Linked DNA regions of Homo sapiens. The main gene of each other region encodes a partner of the protein of the gene in region 2 in a complex. Each region holds a gene or a part of one and is shown on either strand. Other genes may lie near its edges.

Evidence for each region.
Region 1: RIPK1 (region 2) and CASP8 share a complex: the UniProt entries of both Homo sapiens proteins name them as parts of the AIM2 PANoptosome complex.
Region 3: RIPK1 (region 2) and RIPK3 share a complex: the UniProt entries of both Homo sapiens proteins name them as parts of the AIM2 PANoptosome complex.

The regions. Positions count from the first base shown.
Region 1 is NC_000002.12:201,261,697-201,272,128, reverse strand, and holds part of CASP8 (caspase-8 isoform 2 precursor), read right to left. Parts: intron 5,669-10,432; coding exon of another isoform or gene 5,643-5,668; coding exon 5,338-5,642; intron 2,620-5,337; coding exon of another isoform or gene 2,524-2,619; intron 614-2,523; coding exon 508-613; intron 1-507. UniProt on the Homo sapiens protein: Thiol protease that plays a key role in programmed cell death by acting as a molecular switch for apoptosis, necroptosis and pyroptosis, and is required to prevent tissue damage during embryonic development and adulthood.
Region 2 is NC_000006.12:3,069,793-3,080,224, forward strand, and holds part of RIPK1 (receptor-interacting serine/threonine-protein kinase 1), read left to right. Parts: intron 1-3,846; exon of another isoform or gene 3,847-4,010; intron 4,011-6,971; coding exon of another isoform or gene 6,972-7,031; coding exon 7,032-7,195; intron 7,196-7,986; coding exon 7,987-8,143; intron 8,144-10,432. UniProt on the Homo sapiens protein: Serine-threonine kinase which is a key regulator of TNF-mediated apoptosis, necroptosis and inflammatory pathways.
Region 3 is NC_000014.9:24,335,368-24,346,521, forward strand, and holds RIPK3 (receptor-interacting serine/threonine-protein kinase 3), read right to left. Parts: upstream 4,625-11,154; 5' UTR 4,460-4,624; coding exon 4,440-4,459; intron 4,231-4,439; coding exon 4,090-4,230; intron 3,958-4,089; coding exon 3,648-3,957; intron 3,201-3,647; coding exon 3,055-3,200; intron 2,929-3,054; coding exon 2,882-2,928; intron 2,674-2,881; coding exon 2,506-2,673; intron 2,396-2,505; coding exon 2,328-2,395; intron 2,094-2,327; coding exon 1,719-2,093; intron 1,579-1,718; coding exon 1,518-1,578; intron 1,029-1,517; coding exon 808-1,028; 3' UTR 658-807; downstream 1-657. UniProt on the Homo sapiens protein: Serine/threonine-protein kinase that activates necroptosis and apoptosis, two parallel forms of cell death. Necroptosis, a programmed cell death process in response to death-inducing TNF-alpha family members, is triggered by RIPK3 following activation by ZBP1.

The DNA.
Region 1 (10,432 bases), on a different chromosome or scaffold from region 2:
CACATACCACACAGAGAACACACACACAGAGATACACAGACACACACACCACTTATACAGAGACACACAGAGATACACATATCACACACAAATACAGACACACACTATACACAGAGAAAGGCACACACAGACACGGAAATACACACACAACACACAGACACAATATACACACAGAGTTTCAGGTCCCAGGTTGTTTCGGGGACTGCAGAAGTGGAGGAAATATCTCAGACCCACCGCAGTCTTTCCCAGCTCTGCCGGGTCTGGGCTGCATCTGCACAGCCTCCTTCTCCCGGCCTCTGACTCTGCCTTGCTCCCAATAATTAACATGAGCAGCACTTCGGTCTAAAGGAATCACATCTGTAACACTCGTGCTGACAACTTTCTTCTTCTAGTTAAAAAGTGAGAATCCAGGTTGCTTTTACCAAAATACCCCTCTCTTTGGTCTCAGAAATGCCCCCTGGCTAACCAAGTCTCAGGACTAAATCTCAGTAAGATACCAGGTCTTACCATGTCATCATCCAGTTTGCATTTGGAGATTTCCTCTTGCAAAAGAAACTTAAAAGACCTCAATTCTGATCTGCTCACTTCTTCTGAAATCTGATAGAGCATGACCCTGTGGTGGGAAATGGAGACACTTTAGAAATCTTTTCCCAAATAATTTCCCATTTGATATATGGAGTCACAGTGGGCTTGATTCCAAAGGCCTCCCTTCAACATAAAGCCAGTTAATGGCATGGTTTATGAGTTGAGCCCTTGGAAAGAGGCTGGTGTGGTGACACAGAAGTCTACTGGCTCCTCCCCGACTTTCCCACCCTTAACAATTTAAAGTTCTATCAACTTTTCTTTCAGTTTATTTCAGTTGAGTAAATCTTGTTTTCCTTTTTTTTTTTCTGTAAAATGGAGATTTTGTTGCAATAGCAAAATGCTTTGCCTTTTGGAAATTATGCTTTTCAAAATGCACATTGGCTCATGACTTCCCTAATCAAAACTGGTCAGTATTCTCCCAGTCATTATCTTCAGTAAGACGGCCAAGCATTCGGTTCTGGAATACAAAGTCTCCGAATACATCCCTATCACAGACCAGACCGCAAACACGAAAGGACCTGAAGCCAAACACACCCAGCTGCCCTGCCCTCACCCCTTTCTGTGGTGCCGCTACACCCCATCCCCTTGTCTATCTGCAGAGGCCCATCCATGAACAATCAGCTCAAGCATTGCCTGAGCATCCTCAAAGCTGCATTCACTCCACTATGACTTAGTAACCCCAAAACGATAACACACATAATTGTCTGTTGGCCTGGTGCAGTGGTTCATGCCTCTAATTCCAGCGCATTAGGAGGCCAAGGCAGAAGGAGGATCACTTGAGCCCAGGGGTTTGAGACCAGCCTGGGCAACATAGCAAGACCCCATCTCTACCAAAAACATTTAAAAATTAGCCGGGTGTGGTGGCATGCACCTGTGGTCCCAGCTACTCCAGAAGCTGAGGTGAGAGGATCACTTGAGCCCAGAAGGTTGAGGCTGCAGTGAGCTGTGATCATGCCACCACACTAAAAATAAAAACAGAAAATAATTGTCTGTTTAGAAACTGTTCAAGTCCCCTAGTGGCCAGGTCCGTACCCTTTTTATTTTCATAAACCCAGAGGGTTGTGAGGTGCAATGATTGAGCTCAGCGGACCCAGGCTATTGGTGTTGGAGCCTTGGTTCCACTATCTTTGAGCAGTGTTAACTTTAGACATGTTACACATTTTTTCCTCGTCCATAGACTGAAGATAATTATCCGTAACCACATCATAGGAAGGTTTCGAGGGTTACACAAATAAGTTTATGTGAAGTACTTAAATCAGTCTTTGGCAACACACTAAGTGCTCAATGAGTGATAGGTGTTACTATTTCCTAATCTATGCCTATCACATTTATGTGATTGGCACATTTAGGCTCTTGGAATATGCTTGTCGAATAGGTGAACAAAGGAATGTTTTAGAAGTCAGCAAACCTTTCAATACTATGGTGTAAAGGAAAATAATTTTAATACAAAAACACGTTGACTTTAAAATTTAATTAGAAAAGTAAAATTCTGAAAATAAAAATGGCGTAGAAACAGAAATTACTCAGTATTACCATCTGCCTTATCCCCCTTCTCATGGACTCTCTACCCTAGAAGTGTTTATCTAAAGCTTTCAGTTTGGCCAAAATTGGATCTAATCCAAAGCTACTCTGACTCTTTCACCTTTATTACAAGGTATTTACCCTTTTGCTTTCCTCATTATTGAAGCCTATAGGCTTTCTTGTACCATCACCATTTAGTAATGAACCTGAATAGTTTATAAGATCTTTATTTTATAGGTAGCAATTATAACTGGAAAATAAAATGTCTAGTGTTTTCTTATAATGGTAAGTGGTCACCCTAGCATATTTATTAGCTTCTGGCTAGTATTCAATGATAATGAACAAGCAGTAAGTCAGGATTGCCCGGACCCTTTTATCTCTAAGCCAATACATTAAAGATTTTAAGAGAGATCCTGCCTTATTAATAGATGATCGACCCTCCGCCAGAAAGGTACAGACTGTGTCTGGCACTGGCTGTTTGCTTCAGCCCAGCTCATGCGGCAGAAGTGGAACCTTCAAAGGACCAAGATGGTGGGCACAAGATGAGACCCCCCTCGGCTTTCCTTGTTCTGGGGCTGTGGGTTTTTAGGACTAACTGGCGCCTTAATGAATAAGTGCCTTATAAAGACTTCACAATGCTAGTAAACCAAAGCTATCTAGTGTACTGGTTGAATAGTGTTCTCCCCTCTTCCCCAAAATTCATGTCTATCTGGAATATGAGAATGCGACCTTATGTGGACCCAGGACGTTTGCAGATAAAATCTCATTAAGATGAGGTCATGCTGGCCAGGCGCAGTGGCTCATGCCCGTAATCCCAGAACTTGGGAGGCTGAGGTGGGCAGATTGCATGAGCCCAGGAGTTCAAGACTAGCCTGGGCAACATTTTGAAACTCCATCTCTACAAAAAAATACAAAAATTAGCCAGACATGGTGGCGGGTGCCTGTAGTCCCAGCTACTTGGGAGGCTGAGGTGGGAGGATTGCTTGAACCCAGGAGGTGGAGGTTGCACTGAGCCGAGATCATGCCACTGCACTCCAGCTTGGGCGATGTAGTGAGACACTGTCTCACACACACACACACACACACACACACACACACACACACACACACACAAAGATGAGGCCATACTGGATTAGGTGGGCCCTAATTCCTAATCCAGTGACTGTCTCATAAGAGGGAGATTTAGACACAGAGAAGGGAACATAGGCAGAGACTGCTGTGCCTCATCTACAAGACAAGGAGCACTGAGGATTCCTCCACCCACCCGAAGCAGGGAAAGGCATGAAAAAGATTATTCCTCGGAGCCTCTTAAAAGGGAACCAACACTGTTGGCATCTTGACTTCTGACTCAGGCCTCCAGAACTGTGAAAACACATTTTAAAAACTGTTTTAAACCTGCTAGTTTGTGTTACTTTGTTACAGCAGCCCTAGGAAACTTATATACCCAGAATATCTCTTTCTTTTTTTTTTTGAGACAGAGTTTCACTCTTGTTGCCCAGGCTGGAGTGCAATGGCATAATCTCAGCTTACTGCAACCTCCACCTCCTGGGTTCAAGCAATTCTCCTGCCTCAGCCTCCCAAGTAGCTGGGATTACAGGCGTGAGCCGCCACACCCAGCTAATTTTTGTATTTTTAGTAGAGATGAGGTTTCACCATGTTGGCCAGGCTAGTCTTGAACTCCTGACCTCAGGTGATCAGCTCTCCTCAGCATCCCAAAGTGCTGGGATTACAGGCGTGAGCCACCTCACCCGGCCCAGAATATCTCTTTTTTCACTTAAAATCAAAATGGTCAAGCCTTGGCTGGGCATGGTGGCTCACACCTATAATCCCAGCACTTTGAGAGGTCAAGGCTGGTGGATAACTTAAGGTCAGGAGTTCGAGACCAGCCTGGCCAACATGGTGGAACTCCGTCCTACTAAAAATACAAAATTAGCTGGGCATGGTGGCACACACCTGTAATCCCAGCTACTCAGGAGGCTGAGGCAGAAGAATCACTTGAACCCTGGAGGTAGATGTTGCAGTGAGCCGAGATCATGCCACTGCACTCTAGCCTGGGTGATGAAGCGAGACTCCGTCTCAAAAACAAAACAAAACAAAACAAAAAATAGTCAAGCCTCAAAACAAAAAATAGTCTCTGAGAATAGAAAGACCAGAGCATTCATGGGCTGAGCCATCAGAGGACAGCAGCTGTCAGCCCTGGTTGTGAACCCTTTCCATCTCACATGCCATAGTTATCAACAAGCAAACAGAGACAATGAAATGGGCCCAGAACGAAGACTTCAGTAGAAGTTTCCTGAAAGCAAAGCTAAAATTGCTTTAAGTAGTGTCCGATAATAGGAGATGTTGAAAGAGAGAAAGTGACAATGTGTTTCTGTTTTTAAAGTCTTGTCACAGCATCATGAAGTTGTAACTGAATGGGGTTTCTCTCTCACACCTTTGGTTACCCACTCTCCCTAGGGTGGGGAGAAGCTGAGTTTTACAGCCTTTGGCAGGATGACCCAACGTGCCACTGTCTTCCTATAGAAGCTTAGAACTGTCATACAGCCGGGCTCACAGGAACTGGGCAGCCTCGGTGGAGACTGCCTAGCTGTATGTGCCAGGCCAGCGGCTTACAGCTCCGTAAAGAACTTAGTCATTCGAGTCTTTAAGTGTGGCAGAAAACCCTTAAATCTCATTGAAAATTTTCATAGCCATCCGCAAGCAGGTGGGAGGGGGATTTCAGGGTGGGAAGCCATGATGCTTTACTCAATGGATGGGCAAAGTAAGCACACAATCTGGATATCGAGAGGCATCAAGATAAGAGAGGAAAAAAATGAGAACACTTAGAAAAACTCTATTATAACTTCAGCATACCTCTAAGTAATGTTTCACTTTGAAAAATAAATTTTTATTTTATGGTCTTAGCATTTCTATAGAATTATATATAAGGCCCCTAAATTTCTTAATCTGGCTCCGGTGGGACATCTTCCCAAAGCCTCCCAAGTGATACTGAATGTGGTTTCTCTCTCACGCCTTTGTTTACCCACTCTCTCTAGGGTGGGGAGAAGCTAAGTTTTACAGCCTTTAGCAGGACCACCCAAGGCACTACTGTCTTTCTGTAGAAGCTTAGAATTGTGGCACTGCTGGGTTCCCAGGCACTAGGCAGGGTACCACAAAAAAAAGCCCCAATCAGCTCAGAGGCTGTCCATTCAACCCACACCTCCCAGTCCCACAATGGGAGTTTCCACCCACCTGTAGGCAGAAATTTGAGCCCTGCCTGGTGTCTGAAGTTCCCTTTCCATCTCCTCCTTTCTAGTGTTTAGGTAGGTAATCAGCAAATCCAGTCTATTAATTCGGAAGAGCAGCTCCTTCAGGAAGGACAGATTGCTTTCCTCCAACATTCTCTTTTCCTGGAGTCTCTGGAATAACATCAAGGCATCCTTGATGGGTTCTTGCTTCCTTTGCGGAATGTAGTCCAGGCTCAGGAACTTGAGGGAGGCCAGATCTTCACTGTCCAGTTGTTCCCCAATATCATAAAGATTTCTGCTGAAGTCCATCTTTTTAAAAGGCAGGAGAATATAATCTAAGTCAAAATAAATGGTATGTTCAGATAAGGAAGAAAAGTACCATTTGCTGGCTTGTTCATCAAAGGCTACTGCAACTACTAGGTACTGGTCATTGTGCTGTCAGCACAGGAGAGAAAAAAAGAACACCAGACAAGTTCCCTCTTACTGTTTAGGAAGGTAGACATACAAACAAGCCAATGGGCTGGGCGCGGTGGCTCACGCCTCTAATCCCAACACTTTGGGAGGCCAAGGCAGGCGGATCACGAGGTCAGGAGTTTGAGACCAGCCTGACTAACATGGTGAAACCCCGTCTCTACTAAAAGTGCAAAAATTAGCCAGGTGTGGAGGCACGTGCCTGTAATCCCAGCTACTCAGGAGGCTGGGGCAGGAGAATCGCTTGAACCCAGGAGGTGGAGGTTGCAGTGAGCGGAGATTGCACCACTGCACTCCAGCCTGGGTGACAGGGCAAGACTCCGTCTCACAAAAAAAAAAAAAACACAAAAAACAAAAAAAACAAGCCAATGGTTAGAGGGTTGTGACCAGAGTGTGGTAGGGATGTAGAGGAAGAAACCTTAACTTAGCCTGGGAGAAGGGCTTCCTATGGGGAAGGGATTTTGGGGAGAATGCGAGAAAGCACAATTCTTACAGGAAACAATTAATGTAAAAGATGGAGGTAAGAACTTTCAAGTCCATTCAGGCAGGCACAAGGAGCTCAATAAAGTAACTACAAAGTGTCTGGGATGGAGAGTGATGGGACAAAGGGATGAAGCTCTAGCCAGGTACCATGTCACAAAGGGGCCGCATTACCATGGGGCGAGGGGTTTAGGCTTTGTCCTGGAGGTGATGAGGAGCTAAGAAAGGACTGTAAAAATGAGAATGACATTATCCAACTTGGAATTAACATTCAAAGTGCAAAGGACAGACTGGAAGACTTAGAAGTAGGGGACGTACTAGGACCTATTAGGACCAACCTCCCATTCAACCCCACCATCAATCCCCAAAGTCCATTATATCCCTCTGTATGTCTTTGCATCCTCATAGCTTAGCTCCCACTTTTAAGTGAGAACATACGGTATTTAGTTTTCGTTTTTTTTTTTTCTTTTGAGACCCAGTCTTGCTCTGTCACCCAAGCTGGAGTGCAGTGTCGCGATCTCGGCTCACTGCAACCTCCGCCTCCCAGGTTCAAGCAATCCTCCTGCCTCGGCCTCCTAGTAGTTGGGATTACAGGGACACACCACCACACCCAGCTAATTACCTAGAATAATGGCCTCCAGCTCCAAGATTAAATATTTTTAAAGTGACCTAAAGATTTTGAGTTTTTAAGTGACCCAAAACTTTTAGTTTTCAAAGTCTTACTTTCAAAAATATCCTTTCCTTCCATTCCCTGAAAGAAAATTTTTAAAAATCTTTTCCCCCTCCTGATTACAGCAGCAGTGGTTTTTTTGTGTGGAAATGGAAACCACAGAGGCTCTGGGGACTCATCCCCTACTCCCACCCCACTGCGATCATGTTTGTTCCCTGCAGGGAGCTGGCCCCCAGCCCTACCGGCGTCACCCTCCTGATGACAAACTACCCTCTCACTAGAATGGAAGCTCTGTGAGGGCAGAAACTTTTGCTGGTTTATTTTTTATTCTTATTTTTATTTTTGAGACAGGGTCTCACTCTGTCACCCAGGCTGGAGTGCAGGGCGCAATCTTGGCTCATTGCAACCTCCACCTCCCAGGCTAGAGCCATCCTCCCACCTCAGCCTGCTGAGTAGCTGAGACTACAGGAGCAAACTACCACACCAGGCTATTACTGGCTACTGTCTCAGGCTGCTGGCATGATAATTGTCTGGGCTTTCCTGAATGAATAGTAATAGCTATCTTAGACATGTTCAGTGTAGAAATAATCAGGTCTATTGCAAGTTGGCCAGAATTTCCAATAGATACTGCTAGCACGTGTCAATCGTTGCTCTAGGCCCTGGGAATGCAGTAAAATAAACCAACGTGGCCCAGGAGTTCAGGTCTACCCTGGGCAAGACCCCAGGTGGCAAGACCCCAGGTAGCAAGACCCCAACTCTTAAAAAAAAAAAGCAAAACCAAAACCAAAACAAAACAAAAAAACAGGTGGGTAATTTAGCCATCTCTGTCAAAATATAAAATTCACATAAACTGGCCCACAATTTAACTTCCAAGAGTTTTTCCTACATTCACTTAAACAAGTATACTCAAAACCATATATAAGGCTATTCATGGTAGCATTCCTTGAAATAACGAAAGAGCAGAAACAACTGTTTATCAGCATTAGAAGATTTAGGCAAGCTATTAATCATATTCCAGGGAACTCTATTTGGCTACTAGAAAGAATAGGAAGATCAATGTGGTTGAGCCTGCGTGATCTACATAATGTATTGATCAGTACATATTTTGTGTATTCACAGAAGAGCTCTGACAAAAAATGCACAGGAAGTTCCTTCAGTAATGTTAAAGAAAAGCAGAATTACACACAGATGTGGGCGTGCAGTGTGAGAAGGCTGATGGGTGGAGGTGACAGTGAGAGCTGCTTTATTTCCCATACCTTGCTGCACAGTTTGTACTGTTTGAATTTTTACCATGTACATGTATGACTTATTCTAAAACATATACCTAGTTAAAATCTTTATTTAAAGATCCATTCTTATTCACATGCTGGAAAAGATCTAAACTAGATCTAACCCTGTTTAGTGCCATTAGGTCAACTGTCTTTACAATTTTTAATGCATTCTAACCTCTGTTAAAGTCTCATCTTACAGAATAAAACCAACCAAAGAATCAAATGAAAGCAGGACTTCCTTTCCCCCATCCCTCAATTATTTTTTTCTGAGGATAACAATGCTTAGTGTATTCATTTTAGACAATACAGAAAAGATAAAAAGGAAAATTAAAATTATGTATAATTCCACCATCCAAATATAAATGCCCAGTAATATTTTACTCTTTCCTACCAAATATTTTATGCATACACATTTTTCCTTATATTTGAACACATCATATTTCTGTAGTATAAGTGGATTTTTCCACTGGTAAGTACATCTTGTATTGTAAGTACTTTCCTGTCTTTAGTTTTTCTTCTACAGCATGGGTTTTAATATCTGTAAGGCACTTAATCTTAGAGATGGGCTATAATTTACATAGCCAGTTCCTGATTACATTTAGGATGACTTTAAAACGCAAATCTTTAAGAATACCTCTAATTATTTTCTTAGAATAATTTCCTAAAAGTAGTATTATGGTGTCAAAATGAATAAACCTTTTTGAGGCTCTTGTTACACATTCAATAGCATTTTCTGACAGTATATAATAAAAATCAATACAATCCAAGGCTGAGATGACATGAATTTGGATATAATAAGATTGGCGCATAGCTCCGTCCTCCATAGCCATCTCATCTCACTCATTTCATTACCTTTTCAACAACGTGACAATGCTTTTTAAGTGGTTTCCCCATCAAATCATAACTGACATTTAGAAGGGAAAATGCTAACGTGGCTTCTTCTCTGGCCTAGGTGTTCCAGGATACACTGTCAGATGATAGTCAGCCTTTTCTGTTTTTTGTTTTTTGCTTAAGTTACACATCCCTCTAGTCATAGTACCTAGAAAACAGTCACTTGCAAAGGATTTATGACACCATTAACAACGGGCCATCCAGCACTGTAAGGGGAGAGACATCGTGTGGCAGTTCTTGTTTTATGGGACCTAGATTTTCTGCACTAGCTTATGGGCTAGAAACTTTGTTAAGCTAGTATTTTTTAAACAATGTACTTGTATTTTTGGTTCCTAAAAACAGTAAAAGTAACACTTGTTTCATAGAGAAAGTACAGAGAAGTATAAAAAGAAAATAAAAATTACTTAAAAACTTGCCATTTGGAAGTAATTCTTTGGTCACATTTTGTGGCCTTTTCCCAATTTTTTTTCCACATGTATATATAACATATGTAAATTTGAATATGTTGCCATGTAATACATATATTTTATATAATCTCTGCTAAATAGTAAATGTATATAAGTCTATTTGTATTACATAAGTATATTTATTATTTTATATATTTATGCCCCAAAGTATTTAAATATAAATATGTGTTTATAATAATCATATAAATAAATGATATATAAATGTTTGTAATCTATATATCCATATAAACATAAAAATATTTTTTAACCTCATTTCACTAAAAGCCTCTGAAGAAACTACTATTACTGTCCCCATTTTTCTGTTGTGAAAAATCACGGCTTGGAAATAAGCTAGTAAGAGAGAGAGCCACAGCCAGATTTAAGTGTCTCACTCAAGGGCTTCAGTGACAGATCACAAAGATTTAGACGTCATTCTACTTGCAGCTGGAAGGCAGTGAAAGAATCTCATGAAGAAAAACATAAAATCATAACTTTTTTAGAGAACAACATTTCAAAAAATTTTATAATAACAAAGCCACAAAAACAGAAGTTCTTAACAAATCCACTATAGGAGAGGGGGTTAGAGCCTCACAAAGGAAGTGCTAGAATCTAGGCCCCAGCATCTCATTCCAGAGTCCCATTCTACCACTGTATTACATGTCACAATTAAACTGTAAATACATTCCATCTCATCACAATCATTCCAGTAATATTCTAGCAGCATCCTAGCTCTTGCAGTGATAACTAAAAAGCAAAACATGCATTTGCCATCGGAAGCAGAAACCTGCATCTCATCCGAAGCTTGAGAGAACCTGAAAGCCACTCGCTCTCAGGCCCAAACCCCTAACCGGCAGGTAGTATTGCCACTCC
Region 2 (10,432 bases):
CTGAGGTCAGGAGTTCGAGACCAGCCTGGCCAACATGGCAAAACCCTGTCTCTACTAAAAATACAAAAATTAGCCAGGTGTGGTGGCGGGTCCCTGTAATCCCAGCTACGCGGGAGGCTGAGGCAGGAGAATGGCTTGAACCCAGGAGGCGGTAGTTGCAGTGAGCCGAGATTGCCACTTACACTCTATCCTGGGCGACAGAGGGAGACTCTGTATCAAAAAAAAAAATAAATAAAGAAATGGGGAATACTGCAGCTCTTCTATTCACAAAAAGTGAAGACTAGGCTTGTTTAAAATGAAATTTGGAGTGTATCATTATTACTGATAAAATAGCAAAAATGATAACTTTTAATACTCATTTTCCTCTGTCTGAACTATACTGAGCCTCAGAGATATGTTGTACTTTCTGGAATGTGAATATTAATGAGTATTAAGAAAAGCTCTTAAACAGCCTCTTTCAAACTGGGCAGCTTACTTTTTGGTGCTTATTAATCTATAACGTGTTAACATCCATATGATCTGGGAATTTGAAGAAAATACTTAATTTCCCATGCTTTAGTTGGATATTACATTCTGGCAAAAAAGGTTGACTGTATTAATCTGTAGAACATTGATTTTGAACCATATATTTCAAAAATACATGAGCCGTGTATTTTTATTTTTGAGACAGAGTCTTGCTCTGTCACCCAGGCTGGAGTGCAGTGGCGCGATCGCGGCTTAATGTAACCTTCGCCTCCCGGGTTCAAGCAGTTCTCCTGCCTCAGCCTCCCAAGAAGCTGGGATTGTAGGCATGCACTACCATGCCTGGCTAATTTTTGTATTTTTAGTAGAGACAGGGCTTCACCACGTTGGCCAATCTGGTCTCAAACTCTTGGCAATCTGCCCTCCTTGGCCTCCCAAAGTGCTGGGATTACAGGCATGAGCCCCTGCACCTCACCTTCCTGTATTTAAAAAGTTTATTCTGTACTTTCTCCGTGTTTCTGACTGTCGCACATTTATTTAATATAGATGAGTAAGGCTGTAAGGGTGGGTCTTTGCATCTGGATTTTTCCGAAGACAGATTATTTGCTATCTAGAGAAGTAGCATGTATTAGTGAGCCAATAGTGAAAGTTTGAATGAAGGGACAAATATTTCATTCCAGGATCCTACCACTTTAGGTGAATCACTTAGCTCCAAATCTTAGTTTCTTTATTTGCAAATTGAAATCATGATAAAATTTGCTTCAGGGGTTATGATGCTTGTTTAAACTCTGTTTCAATTCTTGTCTCTTGCTGGTCCTTAAGTCTCTTCCTTGCTCAGAGCTTTTGTTTATCCAGGCAAAGCATCAGGCTGCTGTAATCAAGGAAGTTGGAGAAATCCTCTGGTCACTTGGATAGCTGAGCAAAATCAGAATTCTGTTAGTGGGAAGAAAGGGGGCAATGGCAGGTGGGCAACCAGCATTTTCTGCCATTCTCTTGTTATGTGTGGTCATCATAGAAAAATGGGGAAAAAGTTAATTAGAATATTTTGATATGTATACTTACCCTGCCTTAGAAGGTAATCGTGAAATTCCTTGAGATTTCACATTAATTTCAATAGAAACAAATTCACTGTCCTGAGTCCCTGAATTAATATTTATGCAAAACATTTACAAATTCCTTCAAATGGACGTAATTATTAGTTAAAATTATTTGCTATAACAGGCCAGCATGTCTTTGTCACTCTGTGTCATGGCTTTGTAATAATATGGTTATGCAGTATGGCCATATAAGCTGCCTAAATTCACTGTTTTTGTATATCCTTCAACTACTCACAAGGCCTTCCTAAGATATTCAGTGCTCATAAAGTTGAATCTTTCATGTGGAAAAAAGAGGGGTGGATAGGAAAAACAAAAGAAATCACTGAACACCATGCAGAAGATGCAGAAGATTAACAGACTAAACTAGCAAACCGCAAGACTGTAAGGAGAACTGACTTGGGTCAGGAGCTAAGCTCCCAAAGTCCAGTGGACCCAACTAGAGGCCTTCCCAAACTCCACCGCACACAGCAGCACCTGCAGGTCCTAGTTGGTCTTGACAAATTTGAGGAGATGTGGCTGAGACTGAAGAAGAGATACCAAATAGGACTCCTCATAAAGTAGAAACCTTTTACTCAAAAGGGCATTTTTCAGGGCATGTTGTAGTTCCTGCCTGTTTCTTTACTGTCTGTGACCTTTTTTAAATATTATTAAACATTCTTTCACAACATCGCTTTTGCAAACTGCTAGATATATTTCAGTGTTGATGGGCATAACTGATTCTCTCCTCTGTACATGCTAAGTGTTTTACCTACTTTTGCTGTTCTATGTAATGCTACCAGGAACAGCTTTGCACATAATCTTTATCAGCATCTCTGATTTGATCCCTCAGAGTAAAGAAATACTGAGTCAAGGAATTATTCCTTTCAAAAAAATAATTTTAATTTTACATTTAATTCATGTCTATTGTGGAAAATTTGGAAAACATAGTAAAAGTGTAAAGAAGAAAGTAAAAATCAACCTATCATCAAGATACAATCCTTGTTAACATTTTGGTGTCTTTATGTCTTTTTTATCTGTACTTATATCTTTATCTATTTACATATATATATATATAAAACACACACAAATGTGAATATAATTTTTACAGATTTATTCGTCAAAAACAATTTTGAATGGCTATATAATATTCTGTTAGGAGTGTGCCGTAATTCATTTAACAATATTTTTATTTTTATTTTTTTGGACAATTAAATAGTTCTCTTTTTAAAATAGTTATTCAATTGATGATGGGCCGGCATACGTTGGGTTCTGCTAGGCTCTGGAGATGGTGCACAAGACAAGTTTCCTGCCTTCTGTGAACTTCATGAGAAATAATTCTCAATTACAGTACTGTCTTACCTATGGAAGTGTCTAATGGGAAGACTTAGGATGGCTTCCTTGACAAAATGACAGTTCTCTGACACCTAACCAGGCAAGAAGTTGGAAGAATATGGCCTAAGAGGGTGGGGCGGATGACCCTTATGGAATGGGGAAGGCTTCACAGTTCTGCCTGCTCCAGTGATGTGTAGTGAATGAAAAAGGAGGCCTAAAATCAATGTTATCTTTTATGCCCTCTGTCTCCACCCGCTCCTACCTCATTCTCACTAGGATTGGTCAGTAGGGCCCTGCTGACAGAGTGATCCCAGCTGAGAATGTTGGCATTCTCAAAGCCCAAGGAAACAACACCCGTGTGGATAAACACATGTGGGCGGCTGGGCCAACCATAGCTAGAGACATAAAGCAGGCAACAAACGTGTTTTCACAAATATATACATATGTACATATATACGCATATACAAATATATACATATACGTATATACACATAGACAAATATAGCTATATATCTACATATACAATATATGCATACACACATACAAATATGTGTATATATACACACATATACATTTTTATATCATATATTATATATTACATATATACATATACAAATATATGTATATTTATACGTATACATACATGAACGTATACTTTTTTTTTCTCATAATCCTTACCACTTCTGTGAGGTGGTCATTATTGTTTCACTTTGCAGATGAGGAAACTGAGGCATAAGTAAGTGCCCCAAGGTCACAGGTTGGTGAGTCACAGAGCTAGAGTTCACGCTCATAGTGGAGGGCCCGTGCTCTCGGAGCTATGGCTCCTGGTCTCTTACCTCACGCGTGTGCCTCACCCCACCCCTCAGTCTTCAGGCCTTCATCTAGGCAGCCCCCCGCCTCCACCCACTGCCCACGTCCCACCGATGTAGTTGTTTCCTGAGGCACTTCTCTTGTTTGGTAATGTCTTATGTCCTAGGAAAGAAGGCCCATAGGTGCTGCTGTATGAGCTTCCTCCGCTAGACAGAGCTGGCCCCAGCCTTTAGATGAGGTGTAGAAGGCTGGTTACCCGGGTCACCTGTAGCCGGCCACTGTGCAACACCATGGGCAGCCTAGGAGTTTCCAGAGTCCCCTCTCCCCAAGGTATTTCTTTTTTCATTTTTTAACTCCCTGCCCTCCAACATTTTATTATGAAAAACACCAAGTCTGAAGGTTACGTCCACCACGACTATCGTCTTAACACCGCTTGCTTCATCGTGTAATTCTCCATCTCCTTTCCCGTCATCTGTCCGTCATTGTCTGACTTTTTGATGTATTTCCAAGTACACATCAGTACACATCTCGAAATACTTCAGCATGCATACCATAGCTAGAGTTCAATATGTTTACAGGTTTGTCTTTTGATGTAAAATTTACCTGCTGTTGTTGGGAGTACATCTGCTGAGTATGGGCAGATGCGTATGCCTGCAACCCTAGCCCCCGTTGATATCCTACAACATTATCATCACCCCAGAAAGTTCCTTCATGCCCCTGCCCACTCAGCCTCACCGTGCTCACAGGCGGCCAGTGTTCTTTTTCTGACACAGATTGGTTTTGACTTCTGAACCGTCATATAAATAGAATTACATAGTATGTATGCTTTTGTATAAGGCGACTTTCACTTATCACGTTTTTGCATTTCGTTCATGCGGTTTTCATTCATGTGTATCAGTAGTTCATTTTTATTGCTGAGTAGTATCCCATCGTGTTCATACACCAGTGTGTTCACTCATTCTCTTACTGATGGGCAGCTGTTTCCAGTTTGGAGCTATTATAAATAAAGTTGCTATGAACATTTTACAAGTGTTTTCCAACATACGTTTTCATTTCTCTTGGGATTGGAATTGCTGGGTCATAGTGCAGGTGTTTGTGGTTTTATAAACAAAATAAATGCCTATGAAATTTCAATGAATATTTTATGCCCCAGAAAGAGTATTTTTCATGGTCTGTATCTGGATGTAGATATTTATTATTTTATTTTATTTTAATTTTTTTGAGACAGAGTCTCACTTTGTTGCCCAAGCTGGAGTGCAGTGAGTGGCATGCGATCTCGGCTCACTGCAACCTCCGCCTCCCAAATTTAAGCAATTCTCCTGCCTCAGCCTCCTGAGTAGCTGGGATTAGAGGCGCGTGCCACCACGCCTGGCTGATTTTTGTATTTTTAGTAGAGACGGGGTTTCACCATGTTGGCCAGGCTGGTCTTGAACTCCTGACCTCGTGATCCGCCCGCCTCAGCCTCCCAAAGTGCTGGGATTACAGACGTGAGCCACGGCGCCCAGCCGGGATGTGGGTATTTCTGGAATACAAAACATCCATAGCCCTCCTTTTACTCTCAAAGCAAAACACAGACACGCACATTCACATGCACACACCAGTGTGTCCGTGTCCTGTTGGTTTGCATGGAGTTTCTGTTTTGCCACGAAGCTTTTTGCCAGCCCTTTTCCCAAAGTGTTTGTACCATTTTATACTCCCACCAGTGATGTTTGAGAGGTCTGGTTGCTTCACATGTTTGCCAGTGTTTGGTGTATTAGTCTTTTTAGTTTTGGATATCCTGGTAGTTGTGTAGTGGTGTCTCCTTGTGGTTCTCCATGGGTTTTTATTCTATATTTCAGTTTGGGGAAAATGAATGAATGGAAGAAAAGAAGGGAGGAAGGATGAAGCAAATAGCTGTGCTTTGAGATCTGACACTGTATACTTCACAGCCCTGATGGACATTCTCCAAATTCTACTCCTTTTTCACATTTTCTTCTTAGAGTTTGCATTGTTCTTTTTATATTCTTCAGATTCCTTCTTTTGTTCATAATTACTTAAACCTATTCATTTTCTAATGCCTTTCAGTTGTTAATTTACTGAAGTTCTTTGGTGCTTACTAGTGCTGCTTGCTGTAGCTGCAGGGTCTGTCTCACAGTGAATTTTTTCTTTTGTGTTTTATAATTTTGGAAAGGGAGCTCATGTTAAATTTGTATTTGTAGGAATTCTGTCTGGCCTGGCTTGAGGTTGTTGTTTGCTTTAGCCTATAACCTCAGGATGGCATCAGCCTGTGACCACTTCCTGTGTAAAAGTTCATAGTTTAGGCGATCCTCTCAATTCAAAGTCTGTATCTATTTCAAGACAGGCCCAAGGTTATAAATTTGCACAAACTTTTTTTTTTTTTTTTTAATACCTTGTGCCCAGTCCAAGACAAATATGTTTGTTTGCCATGGGCTGCTTTTTTTCTAGTTCATCCTTTCATCAAAGGGTTGCACATTGAGCAGTGCCGTGTTAAGGGGGGATTCTTCATTCTACCTTCTTTTCTTGTATTCCTTGACCTCAGCTGGGCTTTAAACCTTGACTTCTGGATGGCGAGGTTGGCACTCCCCTGTGTGAGCTACTGCCTGCCTCCGGTGCTCTGTTTCTGTCCCTAGAGTTCTTTTCCTTTCCACGGAGTTTTGGTATGCATTTCAATGAATGTTTGTATTATGTTGTCCAACATACTTGTGTCCTTTATAGCTGGAGGGTTCTTAAAATTTTCTAATGCTCCATATTGCCAGAAATAAAAAGGCTGAGGGAATAAATATTATAGTCTTCTCTGATTCTTAAAAATATGAAAAATAGCTCATCAGATGACTGTAAGTCTATCCTCAGAAATCCAAGGCACACCAAGCATGTGGTGGAATGTTAACAAAAGTTTTTAAAAATGATCTTTTCTGCCAGGTACAATGGCTCACACCTGTAATCTCAGCACTTTGGGAGGCTGAGGTGGGAGGATCCCTTGATCTTAGGAGTTTGAGACCAGCCTGGGCAACATAGTGAGATCCCCCGGCCCCCCCATCTCTACAAATAATTAAAAAATCAGCTGGTCACGGTGGGGTGCACCTGTGGTCCCAGCTACTCAAGGAGGCTGAGGGAGGAGGATTGCCTGAGCCCAGGAGGTCGAGGCTCCAGTGAGCTATGATTGTGCCACTGCACTCCAGCCTGACTGACAAAGTGAGACCCTGTCTCCAAAGGAGAAAAAAAAAAACATATATATATATATATATATATATATAGTCTTGCCCTGAGGTTTTCTCTCTGTTTTCTTTACAGGGTACAGCTCTGCCGGGGGGGGAAAAAGTGGTACCATTTTGGGCGTTCTTGAGCTTCAGAATGCAACCAGACATGTCCTTGAATGTCATTAAGATGAAATCCAGTGACTTCCTGGAGAGTGCAGAACTGGACAGCGGAGGCTTTGGGAAGGTGTCTCTGTGTTTCCACAGAACCCAGGGACTCATGATCATGAAAACAGTGTACAAGGGGCCCAACTGCATTGAGTGAGTAGGGAGCAGGGGTGGGTGGGCTAAGTTCTGAGCGGGATGGGGACGTTGGCTGTTGTGGAGCCGTTGGCTGCTGCGGAGCCGTTGGTGGGTAGAGTGAGAGGGAGCCTGCCAAGATGTCAGGGTGACGATGGCTCTTCGGATTGTTATTGTCGCTGATGTGGACTCTGAGACTGGGTAGTGAAGGACTCTCACAGCTGGTAAGTAACAGAAGAGACATGAACAAGAAGGAAATAGAGAAAGACAAAGAGATAAGTGTGGTGGGGGGACAATGAAAAGGAAACAGGAGGATGGGTGAAGACAGACCTATTCACTCGCTTCACATTTTCAGTGAGGACCAGCCCTAAGTATAAAAATGAAAAGGCAGTTCATTCCTGAGAGGTTCTGAGAGCCTTCCCTTTAAAGCAACCAGTAGAGTGGTTTCACCTCTCTCCCTCCTTTGTCAGAGTGGTTTTGAGAGAGGCTGTTTTTTTTTTTTTTAATCGTTCTGTCCAGCACGGTCTTTTTTCAGGTTACCTTGCTGCTGTTCATGTACTTTTCATTCATTGATTCATTCATTCCTTCATTGATTTACATTTTTGGAGCATGCACTGCCAGTTACTGGGCAGGAGTACTGTGAGGAAGTGAGAAACCGCTCTGCCTTCTAACGCTTCTGGCCTGTGCCTGGAAGAGATCGGTACAGACCCAAGCATGACCCCAGCACGTGGGAGTGATGTGTTGGAGGTGTGCACCAGGCTCTTGAGGCGCTGGCTCTGCCAGCCTCAGCATAGCACCTTTCCTGCCCACAGGCACAACGAGGCCCTCTTGGAGGAGGCGAAGATGATGAACAGACTGAGACACAGCCGGGTGGTGAAGCTCCTGGGCGTCATCATAGAGGAAGGGAAGTACTCCCTGGTGATGGAGTACATGGAGAAGGGCAACCTGATGCACGTGCTGAAAGCCGAGGTAGAGAGGGCCCCTCCGCACGGGGATCCCCAGCGCTTGGGCCCTGGCTGTCTGTTATGGCTCCCCTTGGGGTGTTTGTTTGCAGCTCGTTAGCATCAAATTTGCAAATTGCTTGGTAGTTTGAATTTTCTTTTCCTTTTTTTATAGAGACAAGGTCTTGCTATGTTGCCCAGGCTGAACTCCAACACCTGGTCTCAAGTGATCCTCCCACCTCAGCCTCTCAAGTAGCTGGGATTACAGGCTGGATTTCCTGAAGTCAGTTTCTCCTTAAAACATCTATGCCTTGATTGGGCTCCGTGGGTCACTTCTGTAATCTCAGCACTTTTGGCAGGAGGATCACTTGAGCCTTGGTGCTCAAGACCAGCCTGGATAACACAGTGAAATCCCCTCTCTACAAAAAATAAAAGGTGCATGTGAACAGAGCAAGACCCTGTCTCTGAAAAAAAGAGAAAATCTTCCTTGCCTTTTACTGCCCTGAGAGTGGTCTCTTCATCCTCTCGATCCTGTGGACAGTCCTCCATAGTCTGTGTCTTAGGAATGTGATTGGCTGTTTACCATACCTGTCCGCTGCTCTGCAATCTACAGTTCAGAGACAAGCCCTGTCTTCATGATGCAGACATCATCTGATGTAGAGTATATGCATGATGGGATGACATTAAATATGGATTAATGAAAGGATATACACTATAAATGACCGTGAGAGCAGATAGAATATTAGTGGTTGCACTTTGATACCATTCAACAAAGTTTTATTTTAAATTAAATATAGAAATTATTGGCAACAACACTGGATAGGATTTAAAACAAAAATAAAAATTGTTTACCAAAGTCAAATGATTTGAAAACATTTTTAAAAGCTTATGTGCCTGTTAAGATGAAGGCCTTGCGCTAGTTGCTCATGAATCAATAGCTAATATGACGTAGGAGAGTAAAAGGAGGCAGATAGCTAAATAAGTGGTATGGTGTGATGGGGTTTTTTTTTTTTCTTTTGTAAGAGAACAAGGTCTCACTGTGTTGCCCAGGCTGGAGTGCAGTGGCACAATCATAGTGCACTGCAGGCTTGAACTCCTGGCCTTAAATGATCCTCTCACCTCAGCCTCCTGAGTAGCTGGGACTATGGGCATGAGCCACTGCACCCAGCTGTGTGGTGGTATTTTTTTTTTTAGAGGAGTCTCGCTCTGTCGCCCAGGCTGGAGTGCAATGGTGCAATCTCGGCTCACTGCAACCTCCACCTCCCTGGTTCAAGCAACTCTCCTGCCTCAGCCTCTTGAGTAGCTGGGATTACAGGCGCCTACCACCATGCCTGGCTATTTTTTTAATTTTTAGTAGAGACAAGTTTTCACCATGTTGGTCAGGCTGGTCTCGAACTCCTGACCTCGTGATCCGACTGCCTTGGCCTCCCGAAGTTCTGGGATTACAGGCATGAGCCACCGTTCCCAGCTGATGGTGTTTTGATAGACATACTCATTGCTGAGGGAGTACACATGAGAGGCACCCACTCAGCCTGGAATAGACAGAAAAGGCTTCCAATGTGAAGGACATGTAGACGTTTTGAAGCAGAGAATTAGAGAACAAGTGTTCTAGGCAGAGAGAATACCATGTAGAGACTGCCAAATTTGGGGAACTGTAAATTCCTGGGTTTGGCTAGAGCATAGATTGCACAGGGTATGGGGAGGGGTGGCGGGATATGGCTGCCTTTATGGCAAATACTCCCACTTTTCCACTTTCTTCTCCCACCCCACAATTGCCAAGCCAACAGACATCTCACAAAAATACCCTTGGGAAGGAGAAGAGGTGATCACTTATACGCATGGTATTATAGTTTGATCAGATTGCTCTCCACCCCAGAACTAGAGAAGATCAGCTGTTTGAAGTAAACATTTTGATTGGGAAATAAGTCTTTGGTCTCCCATCCAAGTACTAACCAGGCCCAACCCTGCTTAGCTTCTGAGATGAGAGAGAAATCATTGGGGACATGAGGCATTGTGCAAGATGAGGGAAAGTTCAGGTGCACCTGTTTGGACTCAGTCAGGGCATCAGGAGGACCTGAGAGAGAAGCAGAAAGAGAGGAGAGAGGGGGACCAACTTTGCTTACTCAGAAGTTTTTCCTAAGTCCAAAGGTATACCAAGGAAGAAGAGAAAACATCTTTTCTGCTACTTTCTGTATGGTGGTGATCAAGCTATTAACAGTGTAGCTCTGCTACGTTATGTCATAAATATGGTTTGAGGGGGAATCTCACTTCTATCATTAAAATTTTTTTCCTGTTAACCAACGACCAAAATACATAT
Region 3 (11,154 bases), on a different chromosome or scaffold from region 2:
GCGAGAATGTAGGGAAGAATGTGGGTCCTGGTGGGGATCTAGGTCAGAGTTGGGGGCGCTCATTCTCTTGACCTCTCCGCTTGGCTGGCAACCACTACCACCGGGTTTGAACTGTTCATGCTCCGTGGGAGGGGTTGCGCCTGTGTATAGCTTTAGGAGCCATAGCTTTCCACTCCCGAACAGCAACTGGGAATCAAAAGGGAAGCAATGTCCAGGAAGCAACCTGAGTGTGTGGTGGAGGCAGGTATGTGGCGTCATGATCTCTAAGAGCCTGGGGGCACCGTGCGGGGCCAGGTCTGTGATCTTTCACATCAACTCATCCCTCGCCAGAGCCCTGCAAGTGAGTCTTGAGAGCCCGGAAGAAAAGGGACCACAGCCTCTATCCCCAGAGTTTAGGGTTAGGGTGGGGTCGCCATCCTAGGCTTTAGAGGAAGCACTGCCCTGAGATTAGAGAGTGGTCTGGGGAACCAGGCCTCTAGGATTCCTTCCTGTTGTAGCCGGCTGTGCCCTGACCTTGTGTGCCAGGCCATTGCCCACTCCCAGCCCCCAGCATCCCCACTTCCTGCCATAGCAGAGCTGTGGTGCCTCCCTATCCCTCACTGGCAGCTCCCACCCCCATCCCAGTCCCTCCCTGCCCCTGGCTGAGCTCAGACTGACTAGCATTCCATCATGTTTATTGACTCCTGGGGGACAGGTCACAAAGTCAGTTTGTGGGCAGGCCAGACTGCCCTAGAAGGAAGTCAGGGGCCTCAAGGGGTGGCACTCTTCCTTAACTCGTAACTCTTGGAGGCAAGCTTGGAAGGTGCTTTATTTCCCGCTATGATTATACCAACCCTGTGGCCTGCTCCAGGCTTCAGGATCTTTAGGGCCTTCTTGCGAACCTACTGGTGGGGGGTGCTGCAAGCCCCTCCCCTTGCCCGAAGGTGCCAAGCCCCATGTGGGCAAGGCAGTTGTCTGTTGCATAGTCAAGTAGTTGTTGTCTCCAACTTGCACCCCAGAGCAGTTGTATATGTTAACGAGCGGTCGCCCTTTAAGAGAAATAGTGATGGTGGCAGGAGGGTTTAGCTGTCAGAAAGGCCAAGTTGGGGGTGGGTGGGGAGTATGAAGTCTCTACTTGTCAGTGGCTGTGTCAAGGTGTGCCCTGTGCTCCTCCCCTCAGAGCTCCTCTCCAGAATTGTGTTAGCAGAAGCTCTAGAGAGTGGCAATTGACATTTGAGACCCTGATCTTTTTTGCTGGGAGGTCCTCTGGACTGCTGAAACAATGGAACTTAGGGGGCTCACAGAGCTGGTGTTGTGGAAAGTTAGAAGATTCAGGGACAAATCCAAGCTTTGTTGTGTGACCTCAGAGGGCTCCTTTCTCAGGGGGTGTCGGTTTTCCCATTTATGAAATGAGAAGGTTGAGTTAGATCATCTTCTCCCCTCCCCTCCACAAAGTACCCTGAATCTAGATATAGGTCTGGAGGAGGAGTCTGGTGGAAGAATTGAACAGGGAAAAGAAAGAGGTAGAGAATGGGTACCTGTTACTGGATTTGGCTCCGGGGTCCTGCAGGACCAGTTCATGCCTTGTCTCTCAGCCCCCTGCAAACAGCACAGAGCATCCAGTTCTGCCCTGGAGCCTGGCACTCCCACTGCACTCCTCTCAGCCCCAAGTTTTCGCTGGCAAGGGGACAGCATTTATAGGACTCTTAGTGCATCCCCTAATCCTGTCAATGTCTCACCTGATTCCCTCGGGGTCCAGGACTTGGTGTTCCAGTTGAGGTAGGGCTGGGCATCTGGTTTCTGAAAGTTGAGGTCTCTGGAGTCTGGGGAGGTTGGGCCATCGAATCTGAAGATGTGCCTGCTGTCCAGGCTTGTGGAACCTGCTCCTCTTGTGCCCTGCTCCTCTTGGTAAGGCTCGGGCATTTTTTAGGAACAGAGCTGGGAGGCTCCTCTAGATTCAGTTTGTTTAGCCACTCAGAAACCATGACATCATTACGAGAGTGCTGGTTTTCTATGGTTCTCCTAAAGCCATCCATTTCTGTCCCTCCTTGGCCTGACTCTGGGATAGAAAATCTCCTATTGCTGCTCCTGAGCTGAGACAGGAAATCCTTTACCTGCAGGGATGGGAGGAGTTTGCTGGGTATGACTTGGATGAGCCAGAGTAAACCCAAGGGAGTAGTCTCTCGGTCCATAATCTGTTGTCTGGGAACTCAGGGGTGGGCTGGGGACGGTGGGTACAAAGGTCAAGGCATAAAAAGCAGTGGTCAGTGGTGAGTCATTGGATGGCCAGGTAGCCACGCTGTGCCATCCCTGACCAGCTCCTGGGGAGGGGTGATGTTGGCACTCACCGTGGAGACAGCAGCATTCATATTGTTCTCCACCATCTGGAAGACTTCATCAGTTTTTGGTAGGCATTCTAGAGGGACAGCAGAGTGGAGTGCAGGTGAGCAAATCTTCTTTTCCTGAGAAAAGCCCCCTGCTGACAGACCCAAGCTTATCCTAGATCCAGCTAACTGGCCAGCTCACCCTGGAAGGAGGGTCTGTCCTTGGGCTCACTGCTCCAGCAGAGCTGCATTAGCTCCTTCAGTCCTTCTAAGCCGGGAGTCTCAGGCCCGGCTTGGGGCAGCTCAGCCAATGAAGGCCGGTTCTGCCTGTTGCACACTGCTTCGTACACGAGTGATGGTTCGGTTGGCACTGGAGTAGGGGAGGAGGGTGAGAAGAGAAGGCATTCAGGGTAAAAGGGAATTATCTGCTTCATCATGGAAAGAGGCAGGGAGTGTAATGTGGGGGCACGAGGAGGGAGGAGGGCAGTCTAAGTAGGTGAGCGGGAAGGGGAAGCCTTGGGGCTTTCAAGAGAAGGGCACCTGGGGTTAAGGATCCCAGAATCCTCCTAGAGTCTTACACTCAACTTCTCTTCCAGCAAGCACTGCCCACATTAGGATCCCGAAGCTGCAGGAGACACAAAGCTGAGGATCGGTCCAATCACTGGCAAGACTCCTTTCCTATACATCATCCCCTGGGAGGGCCCAGAGAAGTGTAGGAATCCTGGCTGTGTGTTTGGGCCGGGATCCTTACCTGTAGACGTCACTGGCTGTGGAGGCCTTCCGGTTTACGTTAACAAACAGTTCTGGGGCCAAGTAGCCCAGGGTGCCCCCTGGCTCCCCGGACCCTGTCCCTGACTGTGAGCCTCCCTGAAATGTGGACAGGCCAAAATCTGCCAGCTGCAAAGGAAGGAAAGAAGTGGGAGGTAGGGAAGACAAGGGGGCCAGAGAGCCTCCAGGAACCCCCCTGCCCCCAGAAGGTGCAGGTTCAGCTTTGTAAAGGGAGTGTGGAGGTCAAGGGAAGAGGTTCCCTTGGATGGTAGATCTAGGTGCCTTGTGGTAGGGCTAGGTCAAGGTCTGAGTCTCCAGGGCTGGGTCAGCCATGACTCTTTGGAGGGGCTGGTGGGGCAGCTGGTGGAAATGACTCGTGTGGCTCAGGGCCTCTATCACCTGGTAGGCAGGAGCTAAAACTCCTGGCTGGGCTTTGTCCCCTGGCAGCCCTGTGTCCAGAGAGAGAGGCTACGCCTATTCAATAGACAGGGCTCTGGAGGTCTAGTGTCCGGCGGGCCTGGCTGGAGCAGCTCTGGGGCCTTGTCTTGAGGCTGAGAGGGGTGTAGACCAGCTGACCTTGACGTGCAGCTCTGGGTCCAGCAGGACGTTGGATGGCTTGAGGTCCCGGTGCAGGAGCACCGGGTTCTGGTCGTGCAGGTAAAACATCCCAAGCACCACTTCTTTCAGCAGGCGGCAAAGGAGCGGCCAGGGCCGAGGGCACTGGGACTGCAGCAGCCCCGACAAGGAGCCGTTCTCCATGAATTTAGTCACCAGAGCCGGCTTGGGATCTTGGTCCCAGTTCACCTTCTCGATAACCCCTTCTAGGCGCAGCACGAATTCGTTATCCAGACTTGCCATGGCCTTGACCTCCCTGGATATCGCCTTCCTACACTCCAGGAGAGAGCTGGAGTCGCACCGGGGTCGTGGGAAAATCCCTCCCTTCGCCATTCAGGCCCCAGAGCACAGTGGCTCCACCTTTTTGGCCAGATTGCGGCTGGGGTCAACCGGGGTCACTCACGAGTTTACGATCTTGACCGCCACATCGTAGCCCCACTTCCTATGTTGCGCCCGGAACACTGTGCCGAACCCGCCTTTGCCGACGAGCTCCTGGTTCTCCAGTTCCTCGATGGACACCAAGGGGGCGGGGGCACCGCTGGGCCTGAGAGAGGGGTGTCGCCCACTAGCCGGCCGTGCCGTGCCTCAGCGCTGCTCCCCGCGCCCCTGTGACTCGGCGTTCTCACTGCAATCCCCAGCCTCCCTCGCCGGCCCCCACCGTCCCCGGACTCAAAGACGTTCTCTGAGCGAGTCTGTGGGGCTCTCTGGGTGTGAATGTCGGAGGCTGCGATCGACATGCCACTCCCTACTCACCATAACTTGACGCACGACATCAGGCTGGAAGGTGCCAGGGGGCCTCTGGAAATTGCGAGCCGTAGGAGATGGAGTGACTTCTGGGGCTTGGTCCTTTCGCAGAGAGGGGAAGGGGTCTGTCTGTGCAGGGGTCAGTCTCTAGACCAAGACGGTGAGTCTACTTTCCGGGTTGTTACCCTTTTTCCGAGTTGACTGAACAACTTCCCTTATAGGCGCCTCTACAGTCCCGCCCCTGGGGTGGGGCAGGGGGCAGAGCGAAAGCTAGTGCCTTTCTCCTTGACTAGCGTTTCCTGAGCACCTGCCGCAGCCAGATTAGGTGTTGCTGGGCATTGAGGATGTTAGGGAAGGAGTCCTCACCTTCCAGGAACCCACAATCAACCCACTCCTACAGTCAAAGCCTTCCCTTTTCCCACAGGATTTCCTGCTCCACGACCTGCCAGGCCATGAGTGGAGATGGTGCTTAGGAGGGTTTTATGGTTCTAGGGCTCAGCTCTCTCACAGCTGCCCTAAGATCATAGCCAACACGTATATAAAACTTATCATGCACCAGGTATATATATTAGCTTATTTAATTCTCACACGAACCCTAAGGGGATAGGTACTGCTTTTATTACCTTTCTATAGGTGAGGAAACTGAGACACTGAGAGTTTAAGTACCTTGCCTAAGCCCATATGGAAATAATGGCTCTGAACCATCAAGTTATCCTGTTTTCACATAGGCTTCAGGGCTGTACCACTCAGCTGGTCGTGCAGGTGGCTGGGAAAGGTGTGAAGCATCCAACAATGTAGTGAAGGATCCCTATCTGTATTCCTGCCCAGTCCCTATAGCTGCTCTTGCGAGGCAAGTCTTTGGCATTGATAGGGACTTATATGCCCTTTGAACAGGAGCTCCTGGAGGTGGCAGGCCCCAAGCCCACTCCCAGGGCATTGTGGTAAGGCTAGATTTATCAGCCCATCCAGAGGGTTGGTGACATTGTGGTGTACACTACAGTGGAAACACCTCAGAGCTTTCCTGCCCTCTCCCTTGCATGACAACTCTTGCATGCAAATACCCTAATTAATGTTCCTGACAAGCACATGCTCTGGACACAGTCTTTTGATAACCCAGAAGCATGGAGAGTCTTAAAGATTTAGGGCAGAAAAAAGGTGTCCATATTTTACCTTTCTGAGGTCTGACCATGACTGGAGGTTGTGGGAACCCGATAGGGCCTGCCCTAGGCACTCAATCCTTCACAGGGATACTCAATCCTGTGGGTTGTGCGTTGGCTCTCACTAAAGGTGCTCACCTTGGTACTTGCTTTCCATTTTGTTCAGTGGTCCATGGGCTCTGCTGGTTGAGGCAGAAGTGATCTGTAGTTTTTTCTAAAACAACTCTTGGAGAGCCACACCATGGCTTCTAGCAGGGTCAGTTCATGCTATTTTGGAACTATTTAGGGAATTGTTCAACCGTAGTCTCCTTAAAAGCCAATACATGGCAGATACCCAATAAATATTTGTTGAATTGAATGAATAAATGAACAACCCAAAATATCGAGCCTTTCTTAAGGCACTGATCATCCTAGATGGAGCTCCATACTCAGTAGGAGGAAAGAGGTGATTGGGTTCCTGTAGGGACTGAGGGCTCTCACCTGCACAGTTCATGAAATCCATCTGAAGTAGGCTTTAGTATAGAGATATGGTGGTATCACACAGAATCCAAGAAGGCAAGAAGTGTAGCAGGTCCTCAGAAAAGCCTAGAGTCAGAAGCTGAGAGCCATCAAAAGGGGCAGCCACTCCCTTTGTGATTCTTTTTAGAGAGAATAACCCAGGCTCAGTATCTCCACTTGAAGGGAACAGGCAGAAAGGATTTGGAAAGGTGTTATAACTGGGTTTCTTCAGATTGTGACGAGACCCTGAGAATGAGGGATAAACCACTGTGAAGCACAAAGTTGGGTGTGGTATCAGGGCCTATACTACTTTTTGACTCAAAATAAACAGCCTCTTTAAAAGAAGGAAGAGCAGGGAGAAGAACCTTAGACTAAGTGCCTAACAGGACCCTCAGCTTCCAGCAAGGGGGTATGGGGGTGGACCTAGGCAGAGGCTGATTCTTGGAATTCTGAGCTCTGGTCTTTTCTGAGGACTGATGCCTCTGACCACAGATGTCCCATGCTTTTGGAGCCTACTTGGGTATTTCTTTTTTTAAATTAAATGAAATTTTTTTTTGAGATGGAGTCTTGCTCTGTTGCCCAGGCTGGAGTGCAGTGGTGTGGTCTTGGCTCACTGCAACCTCCGCCTCCCGGGTTCAAGCGATTCTCCTGCCTCAGCCTCCTGAGTAGCTAGGATTACAGGCATGTGTCACCATGCCTGGCTAATTTTTTTTTTTTTTTTTTTTGAGATGGAGTTTCACATTTGCTGCCCAGGCTGTAGTGCAATGGCGCAATCTCAGCTCACCACAACCTCTGCCTCCTGGGTTCAAGCAATTCTGTCTCAGCCTCCCGAGTAGCTGGGATTGCAGACATGCACCACCACGCCCAGCTACTAATTTTTGTATTTTTAGTAGAGACGGGGTTTCACCATGTTGGCCAGGCTAGTCTCGAACTCCTGACCTTGTGATCCACCTGCCTTGGCCTCCCAAAGTGCTGGGATTACAGGTGTGAGCCACCACGTCCAGCCTTACTTGGATATTTCTTATTCCTTCAGTTCCCTGCTCCTGATTGTCTCTAATTACATTCAGTTCATCTCTCCTGTGAGCTCTGGTTCCCTCTCCCTAATTGTTGTAGGGGTAGCGGGTTGTGGGGGATCTATGTGGTCTCCTTGCATATTCTAGTCTTAATTCTTATCCGTTGTTTGATTAAGAGATTCTAATTACAGACCAAATGGTATTAATTGAGGTGACAGTCCCGGCCAGGACTAATTTTTTAAAAAGATCTGCTACCAGTAATTCCACCCCTGAGTATATCCTAAAAGAATTGAGGCCAGGCACAGTGGCTCATGTCTGTAATCCCAGTACTTTGGGAGGCCGAGGCTGGCGGATCACTTGAGGTCAGGAGTTTGAGACCAGCCTGGCCAACATGGTGAAATCCCATCTGTACTAAAAATACAAAAATTAGCCAGGCATGGTGGCATGTGCTTGTAATCCCACCTACTCAGGAGTCTGAGGCAGGAGAATCGCTTTAACTCAGGAGTCAGAGGTTGCAGTGAGCGAAGATCACACCACTGCACTCCAGCCTGGGGGACAGAGCAAGACTCTGTCTCAAAAAATAAAAATAAAAATAAAAAAAAAGAATAGGAAACATGGATTCAAATAGATAACTGTACACCAATGTTCATAGCAGCATTATTCGCAACAGCCAAAAGGTGAAAACAACCTAAATGTCCATCAATAAGTGAATGGATCGGTCCAATACAAACTGTTGTATATACATACCATACAATATAATTCAGCCTTAAAAATATGATTTAACCTTAATAAAATTCAGACACATGCTATAATGTGGATGAATCTTGAAGATATTATGGTAAGTAAAATAAGCCAGTCACAAAAGGACACATATCGTATGATTTCACTTATAAGAGGTACCTAGAATAGTCAAATTCATAGAGATGAAAGTAGAATGGTGGTTTGTAGGGGCTGAGGGAAGAGAATGGAGAGTTACTGTTTAGTGAGTACAGAGTTTAATTTGGGAAGATGAAAGGTTCTAACGATGTAGTAATGGTTATACAATGAAGTCAATGTACCTGATGCCACAAAACTGTACACTTAAAGGGTTAAAATAATAAATTTTGTGCTATGTGTATTTTACCACAAAAGGATCTGCTAAAAATATGATTCTAGTATTAGAAAGGGACATATGAAAATTTATATTAATAAACATTTAGCTGTTTGATTTAACATCAGATTTCACCGCGAAGAAAGAATGTATGTATGTATACGTATATATGCTTAGAAAAATATATGAATGGACAAATAGAAAAATGTTTAAAGGAATTATTCCTGGCTGATGGGCTTATAGGTGATTTTTATGTTCTTATATTTTATAATCATATCTTTTTCTTAGTGTGTGTGCTGCTGAGGTGAGTACTTATAGTCTTATTTTTATCTGCATTTTCTAATTTTCCTGAAATGAGTTCATGAAATGAGTGTAGTAATTCTACAGTTCAGCTTCCTCTTTGTCTCCAAGACATGCCCAGAGATGTAGCAGCTTCCCTCTCCCACCTGCCACTACCCTAGCCCGTCAGTCTATTATTTGCTGCTCCCTCCTGATTTCTTGTAATTGTAAGTAGCCTGCTGGTCACTTTGGTATTTAATGGATGTTATTAGGTCTTGGAGTTTCAATATGGTAAGATTTTGACAGACATAACGTGATAGAGGTGATTCCACTCAGAGAGCATGTTCTGAGTCAAGGGTAAAGTCTACAGTGTGAACTTTCATGAGTCCAACTGCCAGACTGGCTGAGTGGCCTTTCCCTCCCCGCCCCCACCAGCAACAATGATAACAACTGGTCTTTTCCACATGTGATGGTTCACAAAGCACTTTCACAGTAAATCCTCACAATCAAGGGAGGTTGGACTTACTGTCTAAGGTTTACAGAATAAAAAGTTCTCATTTTTTGTCTGGAGGTGAATAGTAAACATAGAGTGATAAGAAATCTCTTATTTATTTATTTATTTATTTATTTATTTATTTATTTATTTATTTTGACACGGAGTCTCACTCTGTCATCCAGACTGGAGTGCAGTGGCATGATCTCGGCTCACTGCAAACTCCACCTCCCGGGTTCAAGCAATTCTCCTGCCTCAGACTCCTGAGTAGCTGAGATTACAGGCGCTCACCACCATGCCCTGCTAATTTTTATATTTTTAGCAGAGATGGGGTTTCACCATGTTGGTCAGGCTGGTCTTGAACTCCTGACCTCGTGATCTGCCCACCTCGGTCTCCTAAAGTGCTGGGATTACAGGGGTGAGCCATCGCGCCCGGCAATAAGAAACCTCTTTTTACTGTGGCAGTGCGGATTCCCGTCTGCCCCCTTCCTTCCACCCCCTGCCGACTCAGGGATGCTCCAGCTCATGGGGGAACCCTTATCCCAGCTACTGAAAACAAACCCTCCACACATGGGGAAAGGTTGCAACTATGTGCAAAAGAACTGTCACTTTTGGGGACTGAGCTATACTCAACTCAGGAAAGTCACCAAACAAACCCCAGGTTTGAGAGAGAAGAGTAATGGGGAGAACTTTCCACTTGGATAGGGACTCCATTCACTGTGGCACCCGCCTCTCCCTATCCTTGAGATGCTTTCTTTTGGGGAGCCTCCTCCAGGGCCCAAGTATTGCTCTTCTCCTTTAGGATTCCAAGCAGGTCTGAAGCCCCCTTTTACTTGCTTTTCCTTAGGAGAGCTGAGGGGCTGATGCTTTCACAAAGAACCACATACCTTTAGCTCTCCTATCCCACCTGCGCTCACCGTCCTAGCAAAATGGAATCCTTGTGCTTAATCTGTTTCCTCACACCGCATTTTGGATCTGCGTCCCAGAGCGTCTCTTTGGCAGAACTTAACGTACTTGTCTGTACCCTCAAGGAAGGGAGGCTGGGCAGGGTAACTATTTTGATTCTACATTACCATGGTGGGACCAAAAAGATTTTGGGCAGCTATAAGTTAAGCGTCCACACACATATAACCGTAATGCCCCTTCTGTCAGTGTGAGTCCTTCTCTCTTTCTTACTGTCTAGTTAATGTCAAAATATAATTTCTGTGCTCTCCCAGCTCCTCTCACCCCAGTGGAGCAGGCCACTGCTTCATGTTGCTTCCCTAGCTGGGTGTCCTGCTGTTTCTTTTTTTCTTTTCTTTTTTCTTTTTTTTGTTTGAGACGGAGCTTCGCTCTTGTTGCCCAGGCTGGGGTGCAATGGTGCGATCTTGGGTCACTGCAACCTCTGCCTCCTGGGTTCAAGCAATCCTCCTGCCTCAACCTCCCGAGTAGCTGGGATTACAGGCATGTACCACCACACCCAGCTATTCTTTTTTTTTTTGTATATTTAGTAGAGACGGGGTTTCTCCATGTTGGTCAGGCTGGTCTTGAGCTCCTGACCTCAGGTGAGTCCTGCTGTTTATTTACAGGGAGTAAAGTATAGCCTAACGGTCAAGGGTATAAGCTCTGGAGTCAGTCTACCTGGGGTTGATTTCTGCTCTGTCAATTACTGGCTGTTTGACCTTTAGCAAGTTACTCAACCTCTCTGAATTTTGGTTAATTATAGCACCTACTGGATTGAGTTGTTCTGAGGGTGAAATGAAATGAGGATGAAAGAACATAGCAAGGCTCAGCATGATAATAGGTTAGACCACAGGAGGCTGGGCATGGTGGCTCATGCCTGTAATCCCAGCACTTTGGGAGGCCGAGGCGGGTGGATCATGAGGTCAGGAGTTCACGACCAGCCTGGCCAACATACTGTAACCTCGTGTCTACTTAAAATACAAAAAAAAAAAAAAAAAAAAAAAAGCTGAGCATGGTGGTGGGTGCCTGTAGTCCCAGCTACTTGGGAGGCTGAGGCAGGAAAATTGCTTGGACCCAGGAGGTGGAGGTTGCAGTGAGCCGAGATTGAGCCACTGCACTCCAGCCTGGGTGACACAACGAGACTCTGTCTCAAAAAAAAAAAAAAAAAAAAGACAGATGGACAGAAAGAAAGAAAGAAGACCGCATAATTCCAGGCAAATATTATATGCCCAATAGGTGATAGGTATTATCA